Linked DNA regions of Homo sapiens: all the other regions are linked to region 2. The links come from fine-mapping of genetic effects on gene expression. A gene starts in region 2. Each other region holds a variant in brackets. All regions are shown on one strand. Distances are from middle to middle. Region 1 overlaps PIK3R5 (phosphoinositide-3-kinase regulatory subunit 5). Region 2 holds the start of PIK3R5 (phosphoinositide-3-kinase regulatory subunit 5). Region 3 holds the start of LOC124903922 (a long non-coding RNA gene). Region 4 has its middle 6.7 kb from the start of PIK3R6. Region 5 overlaps PIK3R5 (phosphoinositide-3-kinase regulatory subunit 5).

Region 1 (4,698 bases), 84 kb before region 2:
CACCCCTTACCCTGACGAAGGCAATCCTCCTCTGGAATGTCTCTTCCCTCTTCAGTCTGGGTTCTGCCTCAGCCACGAACTGGGAAGGAGTGAGGAACATCCCAACGGCAATGAGAGTATCCCAGTGACTCCAAACAGGAGGAATCAGTGTTCAGAAAGTCAGGCACTAAGCTTTACTGAACACCTACTGGGAGCTCGGCACTGGGCTAGGTGCTTTGCAGACAATTTAACCTTTTAAGGATGTCTTATTTCCACCCCAACTCTCCACTCCATTTTAGTGCTGGAGAAATGAAGGCTTAAAGTTAATTAACTTCCTCTAGTGATTTAGCTAGAACTGAGCTGCTACTAAATTTAACCCTATCCTGTCTTCTAAGAATCTCAGATTCCAAAAGGAGATCAAGAGAGAATCTGTGCCGGGTTCTGAGAGTAGACAGGTCCAGCGTTAGTGCTGTTTTTCTGGAGACTCAGGAAACTTGAGAGAAATTATTGAGGTGTGTGCGTGTGTGTGTGCGCATGTGCGTACATGCATGCCATGTGTGTGTGGTGTTTGCAGGGAGAGGTGGTCTTGAAGTAGAGAAATGTTTCATCCACATTTCAATCACCTGAGCCCCACAGAGGAGGGGACTGAACTCCAGACATACAGGGTCCTCAAGTCTTTGGCAAAGTAAGGGGTAGGCTCAGCCAAGGTTGAGAGAAAAGGCCCAAGCCATCCCCCTGAGCACCAGAGCCTCAGATCTTCCTTCTAGAAAGGATCCTAGACCATGCTAATGGTCAGGGACTTCAGAGGTCAATTTACCCATCCTTCTCCTTCTACTGCCAGGAATCTAAGAGGCTATGGGGTCTGGCCCTTCTCTCTCTGATAGCTGTTGCTTTCCCAGAACCCTGAGGCCCCAGAAACCCTCTACTCCCAGCCCCTGCTCATTGCAGGACCCACAGTGGGACTATGGCTCTGCACAGGGCCATTCAGTTCTCCACAGAGAGGGACTGTCCTGGAGGGGTGGCCGAGGAGGTTGCCCCAGGGCTTCTGTCCAGTCTGGCGCTGGGCCCACACTAGGGCAGAGCTCCACTGAAAGTCATGATGGGCAGGCAGAGAAGGGAGCAGAGATCAGGTGCGGCCTGGGCCGGCAGGTCAGGAGGCGTCTGGGGTGGTGAGGAGAGGTCGCTCTTCTCTGGCTTGTAGCACGGTGAGACCTCACATCTGTGCAGCAGGGCAGGGGCCAGGGATCAGAGCAGGCCCCCATCCTTCCAGCTCCTTCCAGGCCTCTGGGTTGGTGGGAGCAGAAACTGCTCCCCTCCCTAGGACCCCCCTTTCCTACCTGACTACACTCTGCAGGATCTTTCTCTCATCCTGGTCCAGGCACACAGCAAAGGGGCAGCTGTTGGAGCCGATGATCTGCACCTTGTCCACTTTGATCTGCGATGTGCTAATCTGGAAGGAAGGCCCAGGTCAGCCCCAAATCCCTGGCCATCCAACACTGCCAGCCCCTGGCAGTTCCTTTTCTCAGAACTGCCCATCCACTTCTAGGGGTGTGGGAGGGCAGGGGTTTGTCTGACTGCGCTCCAGGGTTAATGGCCAGGTCACAGGAGGGAGCCTGAGGCCTCCATCAGCCCCTGCCTCCTCTCCAGCATCTGGAAGAAGCAAGTGCCCCCTGAGGAGACATTGCCCTGCCTGCTGCCCTCACCGGAGCAGCCCCAGGTCCCCTGATCCAGAGCCTGCTTTCTTTGGTCTCAGAGTCTTAGGACTCTCCTGGCACCCACCCCACAACTTTTCCACATACACGCGTCCTCTCACAGGGCACCCCTACCTCCCCGACACCCCGCAACACTCCACACCTGTGTGCATCCCCAAATCATACCCCTCACCCTGCCTCTCCTCCCCCACCTCTCCTCTCTCTCTCACACACACACAAGTATGTACACACGGGTGTGTATGTGCACACATGCACACACATACATGTGCACACACACGTACACACATACGCACATGCACGCTCCAGTAAGTCTCTTGAGGGTATGGCTGGAAGGAGAGGGAAGCCCGTACCTGGTTAAAGCCCTTCTTGGATTTGGAGTTCTGCCTTTTCACCACTTCTGTCAGGTTTAGCGTCAGGGCCTCCATGCTGGAATCTGAGGGGCAAGGACACTCAGGCCAGGCTCAGAGCACCTCCCTACTGCACACCCCACACTGA[C/T]CACCCCACTCACCCAGCTCCTCCTGCTTCCGGCAGGCCTTGTTGAGGTTCACGGAGGTACAGACCTTCTCCAGGTTGCTCCAGCGACTTCGTCCACTGATGGCCCCCTGGAAATGCAGTGTAGCCAGACCCTCTGAGTCCAGAGGCCCCGGTGCCTGCTGCCTTCTCTTTGAAGGCCCATCAGTGACAGGGGGTTGCCTCTAGTTAGCATATCCCCAGAAAGCCCTCTCTTATTCACCAGGGCCCCTGTACCACCCTGGATAGACCTGGATGACTCCAGGGAAGAGCTCACGTCACTGGCTTGGTCTAGGGGTCAGCAGCCTCTGTGACCAGGTTGAAAGGTACAAGAGCTGAGAGCACCTGCAGGGGTGGTCCTGAAGCTCTCCTGCCGGGCCCAGAGTGAAGAAGGGTTGGGCCCACAGACATGCTGTTTCTGGCAGAGCCAGACCTGAACCCCCTCTTCAAGTCTTTGTGTGAATGTCTCTGTCATCAGGGACCTCCATGTTGTTAAACCGAAGAACACTTCTTGGTCCTCAGCTTACTTGACCTTACAGTTCACTGCTCTCCCCTCCTTGAAAACCTCTCCTGGGCTTTCGTGATGGCACCTTCCTGGTTTTTCTAGCGCCTCTCTGGCTGGTGCCTCTCTGCTTTGCTGGATCGCTGCCCTCTGCCCGCCATTACATCATGAAGGGCTCAAGGTTCTCCCCTTGGTCCTCTGCTCTTTGTATTCCCTGCTTCCCCCCTTCAGGAGTCTCCTCCGTGACCTTTTTCCATTAGCAGCTGTCCACCCATCTTCATATTCACCACAAAGTCAGGCCCGTTCAGCCAGCCGTCTATTCTCACTGTCTCCTTATACCTCTCAAGGCCTCTCAACCTCAATAATATGTCCCGACCCAAACTCAAGCTCTTCCCCAACTGGACCCCGGCCTCTTCCTGTGGTCCCCCCAGAGAAGATGGTGCTGCCAGTCACAGAGGAGTGACTCCAGGAGTCTGGCCTCTCCTTTCCTAACCCATCCATGGGCCCTGCTGATTACATCACTCACATCTGTCTCCCATTCCTTTCCAGCTCTGCCACCACTACCCTAGTGCAGGCTGCTGCCCTAATTTCTCTTCTGGACCATGGCAACAGCCTCCTAACTGGCCTTCCTGCATCACTTGTGGACCCTTCCTATCTGTCCTCCACAGAGCTGCCAGAGGGAGCTTCCAAGCCTCAGATATAATCATGTCACAGGCATTCCCAGCCCCACCACAAACATAAGCCCCCTTAATGGATATCCACTGCTCTTAGGACTAGGATAAAATTCCTTTCATTGGGTCGGGCGTGGTGGCTCATGCCTGTAACCCCAGCACTTTGGGAAGCCAAGGCAGGTGGATCATGAGGTCAGGAGTTCGAGACCAGCCTGGCCAACGTGGTGAAACCCCGTCTCTACTAAAGATACAAAAAATTAGCCGGGTGTGGTGGCGGGCACCTGCTACCCAGCTACTCAGGAGGCTGAGGCAGGAGAATTGCTTGAACCAGGGAGGCGGATGTTGCAGTGAGCCAAGATTGAGCCATTGCACTCTAGCCTGAGAAACAGGGCGAGACTATGTCTCAAAAAAACAAACAAAAAACCACAAAACTCCTTTCATTGCAATTAAGGCTCTTGGTATGCTGGTCCCCCATTTCTTTAGCCTCACCTCAGCATCATGTTCCCACCAGCTGTCTCTGCTCCAGCCTGGGGGTCTTCTTTCAGAGTGCTTCAAGGTGTTCACACTGCCTCCCACCACAGGGCCTTTGCACATGCAGTTTCTGCTGCTGTGAGAGCACTCACCTCTCTTCTCAGCCTAATTAATTCCTGGTTTTCCCTCCAATATTAACTCAGGTGCCTTCTCAAGGAAGCCTTCACTACTAACTCTCCTGACTGGGTTCGGTTTGCCACTTAGGAACATCCCGTGTCCCTCTCCTCATCCATGTGTCACAGTTGTAATTTTACATCGTGTGCATCATCGAACCAATGCCTACCACCCACTCCAGGGGGCCAGCAGGTCTCCTGGGACCACGTCTGTCCTTTGTTCACTCTTAGGAAGGCTCCAGGGCCTAGAACAGTGCCTGGGCTGTGGAAGACGTCTAGCAAGCACCTGGCATGTGGCTACAGTGAGTGTCGGTGCCTCCTGCCCACCTCCTTCACTGCCAAACGCACTGCAGCCCCAACACCACCGTCCATCTGCTGTTTTATTGCTTTGTCATCACTTGCCGCTCTCTGGAATTATCTTGGCTATTTCTTTGTTTCCTCGTTTCTTGTCTGTCTCCCTCCTCTAGACAAGCTAAAGTGAGGCCTAGGCTTCCCTGCTCAACCCCTCTTTTCCCCTGCCCAGCACAGAGGCAGCATGGGCAGGTGCTAAGAGGATATCTTTGGAATGGCCGAAGGAAGAAGCCCACCTGTGAGGCCAAGCTTCCCTCAGCCTGGACCTTGGGATGCGACCTGCTCAGAGAACTCATGTCTTCTGGCATGTCATGGACAGCCCTCCACCT
Region 2 (4,698 bases):
CACACAAAGACCCCAAGCCTTCCTGCCCTCACAGTCCTGGTTTGTGAGGCTTCAAAAAGCAGGGGAGGGAGCCCTGAAGCAAGAAAGTAGCTTGACCATCCAAAACTGTCTTCTTTGTCTTCCACGGGTCCACAGGCAAAGACCCACACCACCACAGCCACAACGAGGAAACACGGAAGCCAGCGTTCTACAAACATCCACGGAGCATCTCCCACGTGCAGCCGTTCTCATCATACATGCCTCACTTAATTTTCCACACTGGGCCAGGCACAGTGGCTCATGTCTATAATCCCAGCACTTTGGAAGGCCAAGGTAGACGGATCGCTTGAGCTCAAGGAATTTGGGACCAACCTGGGCAACATGGCAAAACCCTGCCTCTACAAAAAATACAAAAATTAGCTGGGCGCCGTGGTGCTGACCTGTAATCCCAGCTACTTGGGAGGCGGAGGCGGAGGATTGCTTGAGCCTGGGAATTTAAGGCTGCAGTGAGCCATGATCACGCCACTGCACTCCAGCCTGAGTGACAGAGCAAGACCCTGTCTCAATAATAATAATAATAATAATTCCACACAGCTCTATGGGTCAGTATGACAGCCCATTTTATGAATCAGGAGACTGAGGCTGGGTTGGGGGACAGTGTGATGCTGCAGGTCACACAGCTGGATCCGGTTGGAACTTGGGTCTCTTTTCCACATCATGCATGGTTCCCAAGCAACGGCTTCAGCATCATCACTTAAGGAGCTCATTCAAAGTTTTGAAAACTACAGATTCCAGATCCCATCCCTGGAAAGCCACGTTGTAGGGTTGGCTCCAAGAGAGCCCTACCTGCAGTCAGCTCTGGGAGCCAGTGCCTTACAGGTGGTCCTGAGGGCAGGAAGGAAAGTGTGGGGTGGATGAGAAGACACAGAAGGAAAACGAGGGTGTCAGTCCAGAGAGGACCTTGGAGGCAGGCTTGGCCTACTTTTAGCCCTTATTCTGCCTAAACCCACCCCTCCTCTCTACTCCGAGTCTTGTTAACTCGCTTTATACCACATCCTGCTGCTTTAACCTCGCCTTCCTTTTCCTTCTGAACAATCTCCTTCCTCCTACTGACCTGAACTTTTTGTGTATTTACCCCAGGCCGGGATGGGCCAGCACGCGCACATGCGCATGCCCACACACACACACACACACACACACACACGAGTCACGCGGGGATGTCCAGTGTGTAAACACAGATCCTCTGAGAGCAGAAAGCGTGCAGTTCTCTAGGACAGCAGCCGCGTCTGGGCCCAAGGCTGGCTAACTAGCAGGCTGAGTGAGGCTCGACGGAGGGCGCCTTACGCGGGCACTTCCATGACTCCCAGGTTCTGACGGCACAAGAGCCCTGATGCCCACGCTCACGGACAGTTCCCCGCTGGAGCGGGCAGGGGACCTGACCCTACGACACAGGGCGTCCTGTGTCAGAGGCAGGAGGCTGAGGACACAGCTGCGCAGAGCCGCCCAGCAGAGGTTACCCGGATAACGATAAGTGGTCCCCGCGACGCCCCTTAAGTCTCTGGGGTTATCTGGAGCGCAGGTTTGCAGACCCGCTGCCCCCGCGGTGGGCCAGGTCCACGGGGCCGGAAGATAGCAGGATCTGTCCAGCCCTCGGGCTGCGGCGGCTGCTCGCGGAGCCCACTCTCCCCGACGGTCCCCAGCTTGCTCCAGCTCTGCCTGGAGCTCCCATGCGTGCCCTCCGCATCCGCCCTGGCCGCCCAGTCACACACCTGCAGTCCCCGCCGGGCGCCGAGCCCCTCTCCAGCGGCGACTCCCTGCGATTCGGGTGACCGTCGGGACCACCGCGCCCCAGCTGGAGCCGCGCGGCGAGCCGCAGCATCTGCCCAGCCTGGGCTCCTCCGGCGGGCGGGGCGGAGCCTGTCAGGGGGCGGGGCCTAATGGGGCGGGGCTGACCGCGGAGCCGGCCTCTCCAGCCACCTGGCGGCCCGGCAGCGTCAGCCAGGTGCGCGCCCGGCCCCACATCCTCTGGGTCACGCCCCCGAGGCCGCAAGGCGTCTGAGAAGCAGCCCCGGCTCTGACCCGCCAGCCCTCGGAAGAAGCAGACCCTGGCCGGTCCATGGCAGTGGCCCGAGGGGCACCAGCGCGGAGCACCAGCGACCCCCAAGGAGTAAGGGGAGGTTAGGCCCCCGCGTCGGAAGCGCGGCTTTGGCCCCGCAGGAGGGCTGGGCGGAGCAGGGGGGCAGGTCTGGGGTAGGGGCTTAGGGGAAAGACGAGAAAGAGGAAGCTCCGACGAGCTGCTTCCTTCTCTCACTGCGACCCACTTCCTCTTCCTACTTCTATTTTCTTTCTTTTTTTTTTTTTTTTTTTTGAGATGGAGTCTCGCTCTGTCGCCAGGCTGGAGTGCAGTGGCACGATCTTGACTCCCCACAACCTCCGCCTCCCGGGTTCAAGCGATTCTCCTGCCTCAGCCTCCCGGGTAGCTGGGACTACAGGCGCGCGCCACCACGCCCAATTTTTTGTATTTTTACTAGAGACGGGGTTTCACCATGTTGGCCAGGATGGTCTCGATCTCTTGACCTCGTGATCCGCCCGCCTCGGCTTCCCAAAGTGCTGGGATTACAGGCGTGAGCCACTGCGCCCGGCCCCTACTTCTATTTTCTTTGGGTGCCCTTAACCCTTAAAATGCCTGCACTACTGCTGTGCAGACGGGCACCTTGACCCGCATCCTTCTGCAGGAACCTTCATAGAAATACCAGCCAGTCCCGGCGTTCAGCACTGCTGTTCCAGCCTCTGGCTGGACTTCCCGCCCTCCCTGGCCGGCACCAAGGCTACTGTCACCTGAGTGGTTTCCCCAGCCCCTGGGGAAGGGAGTGAGGGTGTGCGGGAGTTCCTGCCTCCAGGGTCAAGGCCCTCTTCTTGCCTCCCCCTTTTCTCCCCCAGACGACGTTGCAGATGATGCTCTACCAAGAGTTGGAAGGACTCCCCAGGGAATCCCACAAGACACTGCGCTTCCTATGCCTCCTTTCCCTCGTTTAAAAAATGGGGATAAGAAGGTTGGCTACTGCTCCGACAGCCCTCACAATGGAAGAGTAGCACTTCATTTGTGGGTTAACAAAGGGCAACGCTGAAATCTCCACTTCCACTATTGAATGGAACTGTGTCATAATATCTGTTAGAGGCGTGCAAACTCGGCCACAAGGTCATGGTCATACGTTATTGTTGGTCAAAAGCCGCAGCCCTACCTGAGGCTTTGAGAGATATGAACACCAATGACTTTTCTTTTCCTGACTCCCGAAATACCAAGAAAAAGCAACTTCCCCAAATGGACAGAAACAGAAAGTACCCTTGGTTGAACACAGAGGCCTGGTTCCAGCCATCGTTAGACGTGGGAAGGAACTCAGACCCCCTCTCCTACCTCATCCCCAACCCCTTCCCCACACGTCACCCTTTCACAGAGAAGGAACCAGAGCCACCAAGGGCTGAGAGAGGACTTGATAAGGATTCCAGTCTTCTGTCTCCCCTGTCCCCACTTTTTCCACCACAAAAATATGGACATTTGGAAGAAGAGGAGAAGAGGGAAGGTACACACTGTGCAAAGGAAGAAAATGGCAGAAATGCTCTGGAATCAGGAATTCAGGAGCAAGAATGACACTGTGTGCCAGATGGAAATGTTGGATTAGGAGAGCACTTGGAAAGGCAAATAATCTGCCAGAGAAATTATGGGATGCCTGCCTTCTGAAAATGGAGGAAAACTGCAAAAGAGTGGCTCATTGGTGCTCACTCCTAGGGCTCTGAGCATCCCAAGAAGCCAACTTGGTCCCATCGTACATCCCCTCAGAAGTAGGCATTCTCCTCTCCACCTACAGCTGTGGCCCAGATGTGGAGCCTGCATGTTATGCCACGCCGTCAACACTGAGTTCTGTCTGCGTCTCCCTGTCACAGATCTGATCAGCACCTGACACCTATCCATTCTCCATTTCCCACCTCCCCAAAGCTGCTGGAAAAACTCTGAAAGGTACCTCTGTCACTCATTAAGCATCTGATTATGTACCTCTTTCTACAACTCCTTTGTTGCTTTGTTTTAAAATCTATGGCTCTTTGAAATCACTCTCCTTCCTTTCACTGCCTAATGTTTTCAAAGAGGAGTCTACCCCTGCCTCCACTTCCTCATCTTACATTTATTCCTCAATTCTCTGAACAGAGACCACCAGGGAAACCCCAAATGTCAACTCCAATGGTTTCATTTTCTTACCTCACTACAGCATTTGGCACCACTCCTTCTTGAAAATCCCCTCCTTGGCTTCTCCTCCACCTCTCACCATGATTTCTGTTTTCTTCTTCTGGCTTCATTTCTTCATCATCTCTTAAACATTACAATGCTTGAGATTTCAGATAAGGCTGCTTCTCTTCTCCCTGGGCAATCTCATCCATTCCCATCATACTGATCCCTCCCAAACTATCGCCCAGACTTCTCTCTTGAGCTCCAGATCTGTAATTCCAAGTGTTTTCTGTACACCCATACCTAGATAATCAATCCAAAAGCCTTTTAATTACTCCATGACCTAAAATAAATTCCTCATCTTCTCCCAAACTCCTTCTCCTGCCTTCCCTATCTCAGTTGACATCATTACTATCCACCAGTGGATAGTAAGATTTCTAGTAACTTATAGCCAGAATATATAAAGAACTCCCACAACTCAAAAGTAGTAAAGACAAAGA
Region 3 (4,698 bases), 78 kb before region 2:
TGACGCCTTGATGGCACGTGTGGCAGCGGAGTGACCCAGCTCCAAGGAGTGGATGAAGATCTCTGTCGTCTTCTCCCCAGTGATGAAGGTCAGCTGGAGAGGGCAGGAGCATGTACATCAGTGTGAACCTCCTGGAGGGGCCCATTTGGCTCCTCCAGCATAGACCTGCTGGCTCTCCCGGGGCAGGGGTGGGGCCTTGCAGGCCCGGCAGGTGGGGAAGAGGCGGTTCGGGGCAGGGAGGCCTTACCTCGGTCTGATAGACTTGCAGCAGCACCGGTCTGGCGGCAAAGCGGCAGTAGTAGAGTAGCATGTCAGCCAGGATGGGCAGCTGGGTTGGGGAGCCCTCCAGGGCCTGGGCTTCAGCCTTCAGGGACTGCTGTGGCCAGAGGGAAGGGGCAGCCAAGCCAGATGGGTGGGTGGATAGATGGTAAGAAGGAGCAAGAATTAGGGAGGAAGAGAGAAGAGAGACATAGAGGCAGCCAGTCAGGGGGAGCTGGTGAGGTGGAAGCAGGAAGCAGGGGAGGGCCGGTGCCCAGCCTCCATGCCCCTCACCTGACCCACTGGCCTCCAGGGAGGCTTCTGGCTTAGCCAGACAAAGGCGGGAGTTGAGGAAGGGGGCTGAAATCTGAGGTCCCCCGGACCCTTCTGAGGGCCCTCCTCCATCACTGCAGTGACCCCAGCTCTCACACTCAGTGTCCTGAGTTCAGGCTCAGTCCTGCTTCTCACCCACACTCCCTGATCTTTTCCAAGAGGGCCCAGGTCCTCCATGGGGGCCTCAAGCCTGATTCCCTAAATCCAGGGCCTTCTAAGTGAGGCTGGGTGACTGCAGCCAGTGGACCCTGTTCCGCAACCACGGGGCCACTTACCTGGCACAGGACTTCAGGGGGCAGGTGCATGAGGCCCAGTACATTGCGCTCATACCAGGGGTCCAGCATGCCGAGGTAGTGGGAGATGTCATTGGTGCTCTCCTCCCATGGGGTGGTGCCCAGCTCCTAGGGCAAAGAACAAGAGTCATCATCCCAGCTCCCCAGGAGGCCTGCCCATCCTAGCTCCAGGGCCTTGGATGGCACCTGCAGCCCCATGCTGAGCTTCTCCCTGCCCTTGGGGAAGTATGACAACTTTCAGTCTTTGTCATATGGCAAAATGTCATGTCCAAGTGCAGGGAGTGAGGGCCAGGCAGGGGGAGGTGCCCTGTCAACACAGGTGCTTGCTTTCCATGACTTCCAATCGGCTTCCTTCAGGTAGCCAGAACTCTACTTTCCCCGACCATTGGCCCAGGCTGGGGACATACTCCAGGGCTGGCGTGCCTAGGGGAGTCTGTCGGGGGTGAGGGCGTCTGGCTCCGAGGGGGTGGACAGGCACCAGGGCTGGTCCCATGACTTCGCTTCACAGGCACGTAGAAGAACTGAAGTTTGAAGAACCGTGTGAGGAGTGGGCGATTGTTCTCCAGCCGCCTGGCAAGAAGAAGATGGTGAGAAGGGGAATGGGCATGGTGGCTCACGCCTGTAATCCCAGCACTTTGGGAGGCTGAGGTGGGTGGATCACCCGAGGCCAGGAGTTCAAGACCAGCCTGGTCAACAGAGGGAAACCCCATCTCTACTAAGACAAAAAAAAAAAAAAAATTAGTCAGGTGTGGTGGTGTGCACCTGTAATCCCAGCTACTCGGGAGGCTGAGGCACAAGAATCGCTTGAACTGGAGAGCCAGAGGTTGCAGTGAGCCGAGATCATGCCACTGCACTCCAGCCCGGGCAACAGAGCAAGACTCTGTCTCAAAATAATAATAATAATAATAATAATAATAATAATAATAATAATAATAAAATAAAAATAAATAAGGGAACTTTTGGTTCCTCTGGGGCCCTAAGCCTCAGGCCCCAGATTCCACCAGCACAACAACCCTGTTACCCAGGGCAGAGGGATGCTCCGCATTACGGCTCTTACCGAAGGTTGCTGTACGCCCGAGCCACCTTCCCTGAAATCCGATCGGAGCCAA[A/G]GACCACAACACGTAGCGTGGAAGCCTTGGGATCCTCATCTCCACTCAGGAAGGGGCGGCGGCGCTGGGGGCGTGAAGCAGGGGCCAGAAGCCAGCTGGGCAGCTGGGTACCGAGTTTGGGCTGGGGCAGGGAGCGGGAGCGCTGGGCCCGGGAAGGGGGTGATACTGGTTCGTCCAGGGGGCTGCAGAGGCTCCCTGCCCGCCTCAGGGGCAGGGCCGTGTCCGAGCTGCCCTCCAGGCTCCGAGAGTCCCTCCGCAGTACCAGCTGGCTGGTGCTCTTGAAGAGTTTATAGATCCTGATGAACTTCTGCCCAGGCCTGCGGTGGCCTCGGCGTTCCTGGCTGCCACGCCTCCAAGGCCACTCGGAGGAGCTCTCCTCGCTGTCCTCCACGTAGCCGCTGTCCATGCCATCAGAGAGGCCTGAGACAAAGGAAGTCAGCAGATGGCGCGAGAGGGCCGGCCCCGAGGCCTGGGAGGATGCAAGGGACAAGGTGGAGTCATGGGACGCCAAAGAGCTGGTGGAGAGCAGGGAATCTCTCTCGGCACAGTGCCCGTCAGTTTCCAAGTCCTCCTCCACCTCCTCCTCCTCCTCTTCCTCCTCTTCATCATCTCCCAGGATCCCTGGCTGGAGTAGCTCCTGTTCCTTGAGCAGGATTTCCTGCAGGATGTCTGCAGGGAAGCAAGGCCAGCACTGTCTGGGCGTCTGGGCCCCGGATCCCCTTCTATATTCCCTTTGGAGGGGAGACAGCAGGACTCAGGGCCAGCCCAGGACTCCTAGCACTGCCCCCTTGCTCTGCTTAGAGCCTGCTCATGTGGGAGAGCTTTGGGGACGGGGTGGGAGCTGCATGGACCCAGGACCAGAAACACAGCTCAGGCAGTGTGGGGCATGGGTGTCACCAGGGCCCCGGCTCCTTACCAAAGCTGTCCTGGCTCCAGCTGTAGGTGTAGCACCTGGCGACAGGGATGGGGATGGTGTGGAGCTTCCCTGGTTTTGCAGTGTCTGTAAGAACAGGGAGGATAGGAGAAGAGGGCTGGGAAGAGGCCTTGGAGATTGGCCAGTCCAGTCCCCTTGCCTTGGAGAAGAGACCAGAGATGGGACAGGATCGGCACAAGGATATGTAGCTGGATAGGCTGAGGCTGAGTTACAGCCAGGGTGCCAGGCTCCAAGCCAGAGGCCCTTCTTTCAAGCACACCATGTAGATGGCATGCCCTTTATGAGCTGTGCGAATGTGGCCAAACCACAACCTCTGAGCCTCATTTTACAATGTGCCCATGGGAGAATAATAGTACTAGCCCAGAAGGTTTTTATGAGGAATATTGTAACAGGGAATGCTAATGGTTCCTCAAAGTCTGTGCTCCCTTCTATGGTACTGGAGTCATAGAGACGATGTTTCCCAGGCTCCTTTGGGGCAAGATGTGGCCACGTGACCAAGGCGGGCTCAAAGGAACATGAGCGGAAGTGATGTGCCCAGCTTCTGCATCACCTTCAACAGAAAAGCCCAGCCTTTGCCCTCGTAAGCACTCTCTTTTCCTCTTCCCACAAGCTGCCATCATGATAGCACCCCCACCCTGCCCCTATAGACAGGAATGAGACACCCTAGGGGATGGCAGAGCAGTGAGATGCTGAAGAAGCTGAGTCCCTGAGTGACTGTGTGGAGCAGAGCCACCAGGCCCGCCTGGACCGTGCACCTTGGGACCTAGAATAGGCCATGGGGAATGTGGGAGAACCCCATTCTCCCAAGAGCCTCACCTAACACCCCAGGGAAGCCAGCTTTTTCTCCCACCGCCTGCAGCTTGGTCCTGAGCCACCGCCGGGCCTCTGCAGCATCCCCGATGCCAGATGCCAGCTCCTGTGCCTCTGCGGTCTCCGTGAAGATGTCCTCAAGCTCTGCCAGGGTCTTGGCCTGAAACCCCAGGAGGAGATGGGCTTTGCTCCTGGACCGTGAGCTAGCTGTCCACCTGTTCCAGTTGCTAGCTTCTTACTGAGGGAGGCAGTGATCTGTCCCCTCCCAGCCTCATCACCCATCTCCTACCCACAGCTGGCCAGGCAGCCAGGCCTCTCCCTGCCCTTCCATTCTCAGGAAATGGTCAGGAGAGAAAGATCCAGAGCCACGGCACTGCAGTTAGGAGGGACTTCAGCGCTCCTCACTGTACCCCATAGAGGGGAAGGAGCTGTGTGGGGTGACACAGCCGACCTGTGACACCTGTGACAGAGCCAGGCCTAGATGCCAGGTCTTCAGCCCAAAGCTCATTCTCGTTCTTATGGCATATGCCATCTTCTGAGGCACCAGTTATCAGCACCCAGTCCTACTGCCCAGGCTGCCACCCAGCTGGTTAGGATCCAGCACACCAGAAACACCCTCTATGAGGTCAGCCCTCCAGCCACCACCCTGCCATGTCACCTGGGTGCAGGAGACTAAGTGTACCCTGGAGACCGTGGCTGAGATGAAGCAGGGAGAGGGTGCTACCTCCTCAGAGAGGTGCTCCACCAGAGCCCCAGGCCCCAGGTACATACCTGTAGCCTGCAGTGCAGGCCCGGGACGTCACAGTGGGCCCCAAAGGTGGCCTGGAAGGCGTGCAGGAGCAGGGTGGTGTAGGCACTGTGAGGCGAGTGTCCGGGCGTACTCAGCTTATTGGCTACAGCAAGGAACTCGGCCTGCACTTCCACTGGGTTCAGCAGCAGCACGGTGCTGGGGACACAGGGG
Region 4 (4,698 bases), 92 kb before region 2:
AAACACTCAAGCATTGTAGGACCCTAAGAGGAAAAAAGGAGGGTCTCTCTCCTCCCCCTCCTCAATTTCTTTACCCTCCCACCCAGTGATAACCATGGTAAATAGCTTAGGGTAGTTTATACATGTGAGCACCATACAAATCGCTCTTTAACTTGCTTTGTTTACTTGAAGATCACGATATATTGGTACATAAGGATCAACCACATTCTTTTCTTACATTTAAATGTACATGTTTGTTTGGACTAGTTACACATTTACAGGGTTCGAAATGGGAAGGACACAGAGAAGATCAGTCACTCCCTCTTCCGAAAGCTGCCCTTCAGGTGAAGAAAACCTTGTGACCTCCTCCTTCTCTTTTGCGGGTGCAACTGTCCCCTCTCCCAAACTCCTTGGTACTGGCAGCTCTGTGATGAGGTGAGAGGGCAGACACTTTGGGGTTGCTGTGGAGGGCGGGGCCTGGTCTCTTCTCATTTCCCCTGTTCTCATGGCTGCCTTGAGAGGGAGACCAAGTGGACCCCTGCTTCCTCTCCCTCTGCCCCTAATACCGCAGGTTCCTCCTTGGACAGGCTTTTGCTGGTGGAGCTGAGCTGGGGAGGTGTTAGGAGTCTCTTCATCTGCATGATATGCATATCACCCTCTCCATTTTCTTTTTCCAAATGAACTCACACCAGGAAGTGGAACAAATCAAGATGGCTGGGGTCAACCAGGAAATCAGTGAGAAAACGCAAAGACCCCAACTTGCATTATTTATGCAAATTGCCTGCCCTCCAAACATGTGCAGGACCACACACCCACTCATGTGCACACGCACACACACACACACACACACACACGCACGCATGCACACACTGAGCTACACCCCCAAAAGTAAGCCAGGCTACCTGGCTGGGCCCTCATCCTGGCACGTGCCTCTCACTCTGTGTGACCCTGTGCAGGCCTCTCCCAGTCTCTGGGCCTCAGTTTCCTCCTCTGTAACCTGAGGGGCTGCAGATTGGGTTTGCAAAGCCCTCCTCAGCTTTCTCAGCCCCAAAACGATTCTGTTCTGGCCTCAGAGACTTTCGGCTACAGTTTTGCTCAGAGAAGGCCTCTGGTCCCTGGTTGCAAGGGCCCCTTCCTTGGGTGTGTGGGGGTGGGGGCCGCTCTGCTCCCTCCCTCCTCTTCCCCAGAGGTCTCGGGGGACCCCCTTCAGTCTGCTCTGGAGCCAGGAGCGACATTCACCATTCACCGAGGGCTTCCTTCCTGACTGCCCTCCCCTTAGCAGTGGTCCGCGCAGACCAGCCTGGAGTCCCGCCAACCCAGTCTGGCCCCAGCTTCCTCTCCTCCTCTATGCCCCCTCCAACTTTTCCACCCCTGCCACTCCCACCATTCCTGAGGGTGTGTGAACACAGCTTCTATTTTGAAGCTATCAGAGCGTCTCCAGCGTTCCATTAGAAACGAAGCCATTCTTCTCAGACATCTGTGTGATCCTTTTCATGGCCTCAGCTTACCCACCACCCACACGAGAGGTTCCAGAGAGCAGCAGAGATTAGTGGTTAAGCGCAGGGACTCTGGACCCCACCTGTCTGTGCTTAAATCCTGGATTCCCCTTTTTACTGTCTCTGTGAGCTTGGACAAGTTACTTGTCTCTGCCTCAGTTTCCCTGCCTGTAAAAGGGAGCATAATTGTACCTACCTCATGGGGCTGTGGCACAAATGAGTTAACGTAAGCATGTAAAGCACACAGAGCAGCGCCTGACACGTGCTCAGTAAGTGCTGAAAGTGTTTGCTGAGAGGTCAGTTCACTCGACGCAGACATTCACAGGTGATTCTCTGTGCAGGTTGCAATGACTGAGACGCTGCACCTTTGAGCTGGAAATATCTGAGATCCTTCGAACAAGCGCCATTTCTTCCCACTCCCCCCGTGCAAAGAGTGGCAGACACACGTACCTGCTGTGACCACAGCCATGTCTCCAGGGAGCCCACACTCAGAGTCTCCGGGGCTGTGGTCCGAGCCGGGACATAGGTGTGCCTGAGCACAGAACAGAGAGAAACAAGCTGGCACGCCTGGGGACAGAGTCTGCCACCTGCCTCACTTTGCCCCCAGAGGGATGGGGGATGGCACCCTCTCCCAGGAGGCATTTCCTTTACCCTGATTTTACTGGTATGGTTGGGGGAAGAAAGAGAAGGATTCAGAGACTTGGGGAAAGGAGGAAGTGGATTCTTCCTCAAGAAAATGGGGGAGCCCTTTCCCCAGGGAAGCTGTGAACATTACCGGTGCTGGAGTGGGTGGCAGTGTGGCAATGCGGGAGGGGCAGTCTGAAGGCCCAGGGCAGGCACCAGGCTGGCTGGGTCCACACAGCATCTCGGGTGTGCCTGGAGCCGCAGGGGCTGAAAACTGTGCTGCTTCTGCTTTGGGCAGACAGGGGGCTGCGGGCTTCTTGCCCTGGAGGCTGTGGGAGAGCCCTTTCCCCGGGGG[G/GA]AGGCATGACTGGGATGCCAGGGACTTCAAGGAGAGGTCTGAAGATGGTGATAGACCACTACCTTCCGGCCCCTAGAAGAAGCTCCCAGCTACCTGAGGAGAACAAAGAGGTGTAAGCCATTGTGTCTGGAGGAGCCCCCTCTCGGTAAGGCTTCTGCTCACAGGGAGCCCTGTGTTGTACCTGAGCGAGTTAGAGAAAACGCCACACTTTGAGATGAATTAAGAGTCTGTTTATAGTTAGTGATTATTACCAGTAGTTCTTTAATTTACGGGTCTTCATAAGATGTACTGTACAATGCTCAATTGTTATGTCATTTAAAGACATCAGGTTCATCTGTTTACTGAGCTAGAAACATAGTATGTAGTTTCACTTTTTAAAATGCAACAGCTGTGCTGAAATTTTTTTTATCATTAACACTTGAAGTAATAAAATAGGCTTCATTTATTTAAAAAAAATAGAGTCCGTTTATTTAGCCGGTGGTCAAGAGACGGCTAACGCTCAAAATTCTCTTGGCCCCGAAGAAGGGGCTAGATTTTCTTTTATACTTTGGTTTAGAAAGGGGAGGGGGATCTAGTTAAAACAATTTTACAGAAATAAAGTAGGCAAAAAGTTAAAAGGATAAATGGTTACAGGAAAGTAAACAGTTCCAGGTGCAGGGGCTTTAAGACTATTACAAGGTGATAGACGCGGGGCTTTGGGCGTTATCAATCGGACGAATTCCTGGGAACTGCGGATATCACTCGCCACAGTATCTTATCAGTTAATTGCATTTTTGGATGTGCTGGGAGTCAGCTTGCACAAGTTAAGTCCTCGAAGAAGGGGCTGCCAGTGAAAGAGCCAAGATGGAGTCTGTCTGGCTCTCTTACCTAAGGGAGAGTCAATTCAGGTGGAACCAAGGCTAGGTGATTAAAGGAAAGAGGGAGAGTCTAAAAACAGGGTTAGTAAAAACAAGGTTGAGCATTACACCTGAGGCCCGGTAGGCTACCTGGACTACAGTCTCAGCAGCACCATCCCCTTTCACATTGCGTCCCCTGATGAGCCCTACACACTCCCCGGAAAGTAGACACTGTGTCATTTTCACAGGCAAGGAAGCGAGGCTTGGAGACATCGGGAGGCGGCCAGGGTCACTCCAAGGGTGAACGTTCCTGCTCCTCCCTGGCCTCCCTGTGATCCGAGGTTTAGCCTGAGAGAGTGCCGTATCCGACAAAGGGAGCAGAGGAAATGTAAGGCCACAGGGGTTCTGCCAGGTGCAGGAAGGAATGATGGAACTGGGGGCCAAGAGAGCGCTCCCTTCTACGGTCCCAAACCCTGAGACCCGCAGTGCACAGCTTGATTTTGGTCCCCTAACTGAGGCCTGCCCAGCCTTCTAGGAAGCAGGAAGTGGCAAAAGGAGACACCTATCTCCTCCCAAAGTTGGAGAAATATACCCATTCCAGGGATGGCAAGACCAGGAGGTCAACATGCCTAGGGCAGAAGTAATTCTGCTGTGAGTAGTGGGAGGTGAGAGTCTGCAAGTTTATGGCCAGCTCCTGAGCTCTTGGTGAGGTACCATGCGGAGGAGGGGCCACCTTGAGGAGGAGGATGGGGTGCTGAAAAGGACAGCCTCCTCCTTTCTCTTCATCTGCCAACAGCAGGACCCAATGGGGATTCTAGTTTCAGTCCCCTACCTCGGCCCCTTTCCTCAGTGTTCAATGACTCGGATTACAAAAGCTCATGGACTGGATGAGACATTCTGGCTCAGAGCCCCTTTAGCCTATAACCACTTGGCCCATGGATTCGCCTACAGCTCATGGTGATAGTATCCAGGGTATGTGTCTGACCAATAGGGGATCCATTCTTAGGTCAGCCAGTGATTTTTGTGAAGTATGGTTTAAAGAATCTTCTGTCTGGGCGTGGTGGCTCATGCATGTAATCCCAGCACTTTGGGAGGCCGAGGTGGGTGGATCACCTGAGGTCAGGAGTTCGAGACCAGCCTGGACAACATGGTGAAACCCTGTCTCTACTAAAAAAATAAAAAAAATTAGCTGGGTGTGGTGGCATGCGCCTGTAGTCCCAGCTACTTGGGAGGCTGAGGCAGGAGAATCCTTTGAACCCGGGAGGCGGAGTTTGCAGTGAGCTGAGAATGGGCCACAATGTTCTATCAATTTCAGTAACATCAAATTTGTTAATTGTGTTGTCCAGATCTTGTATATCTCTATTAAAATTTTTTGTCTATGTGTTCTATCAGCTATTGGGAGAGATAT
Region 5 (4,698 bases), 28 kb before region 2:
TCGTTTTTGGCCACCCACAGTGTGGGCAGGTTGCCTGGGAGACCTGCTTCCTTCCTTGTTTCCTCTGCCAGAGGCCAAAGGAAGAGATTCAGGTCAGAACCCAAGCTTCCCCGGAGCTGTTCCTAAGACCTCAGAGTACAAATACAGGATAATTTATATTTCTATTAATTTATTTCTTTCTGTACATTGTGCTCTCCCCTCACCCTATCCCCATGCTAAATAAGAAGGCAACCATCCTGAGGAAGGTTTGTGGCAGGAAAGTGAACAGCTCTGAGCTCCCGGACAGCTCCTGGCAGGATGGGGCTTGGCATCGGATTTCAGTCAACATAAGAAGACAAGGCCACGCATGGTGGCTCACGCTTGTAATCCCAGCACTTTGGGAGGCTGAGGCGGGCGGATCACGAGGTCAGGAGATCGAGACTATACTGGCTAACGCAGTGAAACCCGATCTCTACTAAAAATACAAAAAATTAGCCGGGCGTGGTGGCGGGCACCTGTAGTCCCAGCTACTCGGGAGGCTGAGGCAGGAGAATGGCGTGAACCCGGGAGGCGGAGATTGCAGTGAGCTGAGCTTGCGCCACTGCACTCCAGCCTGGGTGACAGACCGAGACTCCATCTCAAAAAAAAAAAAAAAAAGGAGACAATGTTTATTTCTATTTCTTTTATAGACTTTAATTCTTAAAGTAGTTTTAGGTTTATAGAAATATTAAAGTACAGAGAGTTCCTATATACTCCCTCTCCTTCCTCCTCCCACCCACAGTTTCCTCTATTATTAATATCTTCCATTAGTGCGGTTCATTCGTTAAAATTAATAAACCAATATTGATACAAGAGTAGTCACTGAAGTCCACAGTGTGCGTTAGGGTGCACTCTTTGTGTTGTACAATTCTATGAGTTTCTCCAAATATATAATATCAATACACATTACAGTATCACAGAATATTTTCACTGCCCAGAAAATCCCCTATACTCCATCTATTCATCCTACTCCCTCCAGCATCTGGTAGCCATTCTTCTTTTTTACTGCTTCCATAGATTGGCCTTTTCCAGGACATCACATAGTTGGGATTATACAGTATGTAGTTTTTTTCAGATTGGCTTCTTTCATTTAGCAATATGCATGCACTTAAGATTCTTTCATGTTTTTTCATGGCTTGATAGCTCTTTTCTTTTTCCCACTGAATAATATTCCATTGTATGGATGCACCTTTATAGTAAGTCTTACAAGTCTCTATAGCAGGTCTTAGTAAGTTAGTAATGTCAGTCTTCTGACTTTGTTCTTCTTCAATGTTGTGTTGTTTATTCTAGGTCTTTTTCTTTTCATATAAGTGTTAGAATGAGTTTGTCAATATTCACAAAGTAATTTATTGGAGTCTTGATAGAGATTGCATCGAGTCTAGAGATAAAACTAAAAGAACTGACAGCTTAACAATAGTGAGTCTTTCTATACATGAACATGGAATACCTCTCCATTTATTTAGATTTCTGTAGATTTTTTTATCCATTTTATTGTTTTCTCATATAAATCTTGTATATATTTTGTTAGATTCATATCTGATTATTTCATTTTTTGGTGCTAGTGTAAATGGTATTGTATTTTTAATTCAAATTCCAATTGTTCATTGCTGGTATATAGGCAAGCACTTGACTTTTGTGTATTTATCTTGCACTCTGAAACCTTACTATAATTGCTTAGTTCCAGGAATGTTGTTTTTTGTCATTGTTGATTCTTTGGGATTTTATACATAGACAATCATGTTATTTGGTGAACAGAAACTTCCTTCCCAATCTGTATACCTTTCATCTCCTTTTCTTATATTTTTGCTTTACGTAGGACTTCCAGTACGATGTTAAATATGAGTGGTAAGTGAAGACATCTTTGCCTTGGTCCCAGTCTTAGGGGGAAAACATCTAGTTTCTCACCATAATGTTAGCTGTACGTTTTCTGTATAAGTATTTATCAAGCTGAAGAAGTTCCTCTCTATTTCTAGTGTGATGAGAATTTTTATCATAAATGGGTATTGGACTTTATCAAATGTTTCTTCTGTATCTAGTTTTATGATTTTTCTTCTTCAGCCTGTTGATGTAATTAACTACGTTAGTTGACTTTCAAATATTGAATCAGCCTTGTATATCCAGAATAAATCCCTCTTAGCTGTGATCTATAATTCTTTTCGTGTATCGTTGGATTCAATTTGCTAATGTTTTATTGAGGATTTTTACACCTATATTAATGAAAGATATTGATCTGTAGTTTTCGTTTTTTGTAATATTTTTGTCCGGTTTTGGTATTAGGTAATGCTGGCCTCATAGAATGAGTTAGGAAGCACTCCCTCTTCTTCTATTTTCTGGAATGGACTGTAGAGAGTTGCCATCATTTTTTCTTTTGTGTGTGTGTGTGTTTCACTCTTGTTGCCCAGGCTGGAGTGCAATGGCACAATCTCGGCTCATTGCAACCTCCACCTCTTGGGTTCAAGTGATTCTCCTGCCTCAGCCTCCTGAGTAGCTGGGATTACAGGCACCTGCCACCACACCCAGCTAATTTTTTGTATTTTTAGTAAAGACGGGGTTTCACCATGTTGGCCAGGCTGGTCTTGAACGCCTGACCTCAGGTGATCTGCCTGCCTCAGTCTCCTAAAGTGCTGGGCTTCCACATGTGAGCCAC[C/T]GCACCCGGCCATTTTTTCTTTAAATGTTTGGTAGAATTCACCAGTGAAACCATCTGGGCCTGAAACTTTTTTGTTTTGGAAGATTATTGATTCAATTTATTTAATAGATATAGGCCTATTCAGATAATCTACTTCTATTTGTATGAGTTTTAATAGAAATAAGAAATTATTCCATTTCATCTAAGTTAGCAAATTGGTGGGCATAGAGTTGTTCATAATATTCCTTTATTATCTTTTCAATGTCCATAGGTTTGGCAGTGATTTTTACTTTTTTTCTTGAGCTGTAATTCATGTAACGTAAACTCAACATTTTAAAGAATACCCTTCAGCGGCTTTTACTATACTCACTAAGTATGTAACCATCACAACTATCTGATCCCAGAATATTTTCATCGCTCCAAAAAGAAACCCTATACCTATTAGCAATCACTCTCCATTCTCCCTCCCCTTATCCTCTGGCAACCAGTCATCTACTTTTTGTCTTTATGGGTTTGCTTATTCTGGACAATTCATATAAATGAAGTCTTATGATATGTGGTCTTTTGCATCTGGTTTGTTTCACTTAGTGCATGTTTTCTAGGTTCATCCATGTCGTAGTATGTAACAGTACTTACTCCTTTTTATGACTGAGTAATATTTCACTGTGTGGACATACCAAGAATTTCTCAGATACACTTGAAGCATTTCAAGTATATATTTGTAATTTTATTTCTCAAATGCTTGAATTTATGGACCAAGATTCATATTGGATACATGGGAGCTACTTGCTCAGAGCAAAAGAAAAAGATGAGAGACAGTATCCAGGTATGACCCAAGTTTACCTTTCTACATGAGGGACAGTAAGAAATGAACGTAGCCTGGAGTTTCCTCTGTAAAAAGAGAATCCTGCTTGAGTCTTGTGGGCTTACATAAGCTGGTGCCACCGCCATCAGCTACTACCCACAGTGAGTTCCTACTACCTGTCAGCTGCTGGAAGAGGCAGGCACTTTCACATGGGACAATCCTTCCAGGTGGTCATTCTTCATCTCTGTTTTACACATAAGGAAACGATGGCTCTGAGAGATAAAGTCACTTTCTCAGGATCTGCAGCAAGTGAGAGCAATGATGCTAACTCAGGCCTGCCGAACACCAAAGCCCTCCCCAGCTGTCAGGTAACACCTCGAATTCTCTACCCAATTGCTCCAGCAGTAGGAATTCCTAAACTTTTTTGCACCATGGGACCATTCAGCAGTCTGACATCTACAGACCCCTCTTCAGAATAATGCTTTAAATGCATGAAATAAAATACACAGAATTGCAAAGGAAATGAGTTACACTGAAATACAATGGTCAAACTATTTTTAAATCATCAGATTTATGAAATGGGAGTATACGTTCTTCTCATTAACACATGAAATAATAAAAGCCCAGCAGTGAGTCTAATCACTGTGATCACCTAAACGTAGTAAAGAGCATGAATGACATTTGAGGTATCTGCAACCTCAAAGTGACACGAAAACATCTGGATTTCTGTTGGTGACAAAGTCACAGGTGCTACTGATATGACTGTGGTTTTTGCCTACGTTCAAATGCGAACTTCAGTTACAGGTGAGTGAAAATAACGATGCCACGTGTTCTCCATCCAAGTTCACGGATGCCTGGCTGAGAATCTCTGCTCCCCAGAAGCTGTGCAGCCAAGAGGAATGGGAACGTGGCCCCTCCCTCTCCCAGGGACTGTCATTGCCTTTTGATATTCATGTATTCTGGAGTCCTGGTGTGAGAAGGGGTCACCTTCCTGCCCCAATGTCCTTCCCTACTCCAGAATTCCTCAAATCTGCGTATTTCTGGAAAGCTCCAAATAGAGTGTTTCAGTTCTCATGGTGGTCCCCATCTCAGCTTAGTCTTACACATCTCTCTCAGGACAGTTTAATTCCTTTTAAAAACAACCCCCAGAGAGCTGCGGGGAGTTTCTAATCTCTCATATCAGGCTTCTTGTATGACTTCACAAGGGCAGCCCCTAAGCCTGCTTCCCCTGGGAGATGGGGGCCTGGCT

The links.
Region 1: its variant is fine-mapped to the expression of PIK3R5 in whole blood (TOPMed, PIP above 0.99).
Region 3: its variant is fine-mapped to the expression of PIK3R5 in whole blood (TOPMed, PIP above 0.99).
Region 4: its variant is fine-mapped to the expression of PIK3R5 in whole blood (TOPMed, PIP above 0.99).
Region 5: its variant is fine-mapped to the expression of PIK3R5 in whole blood (TOPMed, PIP above 0.99).

Annotation. Positions count from the first base shown.
Region 1 is chr17:8,879,589-8,884,286 of GRCh38, forward strand. It overlaps PIK3R5 (phosphoinositide-3-kinase regulatory subunit 5), which reads right to left. Exons shown (of 19, transcript NM_001142633.3): 16 at 2,200-2,293; 17 at 2,042-2,124; 18 at 1,317-1,429; 19 at 1-1,198. The coding sequence ends at 1,051. The region is part of intron 1 of LOC124903919 (a long non-coding RNA gene); the gene reads left to right. Among named protein-coding and RNA genes, the nearest start is that of PIK3R6, 14 kb to the left of the region's middle. The variant C/T (reference allele first, on the strand shown) is at 2,187.
Region 2 is chr17:8,963,848-8,968,545 of GRCh38, forward strand. PIK3R5 (phosphoinositide-3-kinase regulatory subunit 5) reads right to left here and starts at 1,860. Exons shown (of 19, transcript NM_001142633.3): 1 at 1,749-1,860. PIK3R5-DT (PIK3R5 divergent transcript) reads left to right here and starts at 2,000. Exons shown (of 3, transcript NR_184080.1): 1 at 2,000-2,156; 2 at 2,920-3,994. RefSeq lists silencers at 1,784-2,103, 2,174-2,273.
Region 3 is chr17:8,886,230-8,890,927 of GRCh38, forward strand. PIK3R5 (phosphoinositide-3-kinase regulatory subunit 5) reads right to left here. Exons shown (of 19, transcript NM_001142633.3): 7 at 4,509-4,683; 8 at 3,744-3,897; 9 at 2,910-2,993; 10 at 1,942-2,662; 11 at 1,292-1,454; 12 at 867-992; 13 at 248-376; 14 at 1-93. It overlaps LOC124903922 (a long non-coding RNA gene), which reads left to right and starts at 1,393. Exons shown (of 2, transcript XR_007065613.1): 1 at 1,393-1,471. It overlaps LOC124903919 (a long non-coding RNA gene), which reads left to right. Exons shown (of 3, transcript XR_007065610.1): 3 at 1-65. RefSeq lists enhancers at 1,702-2,510, 2,511-3,319. The variant A/G (reference allele first, on the strand shown) is at 1,994.
Region 4 is chr17:8,871,997-8,876,694 of GRCh38, forward strand. No RefSeq gene overlaps it. Among named protein-coding and RNA genes, the nearest start is that of PIK3R6, 6.7 kb to the left of the region's middle. The variant G/GA (reference allele first, on the strand shown) is at 2,455.
Region 5 is chr17:8,935,435-8,940,132 of GRCh38, forward strand. All of the region lies in intron 1 of PIK3R5 (phosphoinositide-3-kinase regulatory subunit 5), which reads right to left. Among named protein-coding and RNA genes, the nearest start is that of PIK3R5, 28 kb to the right of the region's middle. RefSeq lists a silencer at 4,100-4,209. The variant C/T (reference allele first, on the strand shown) is at 2,666.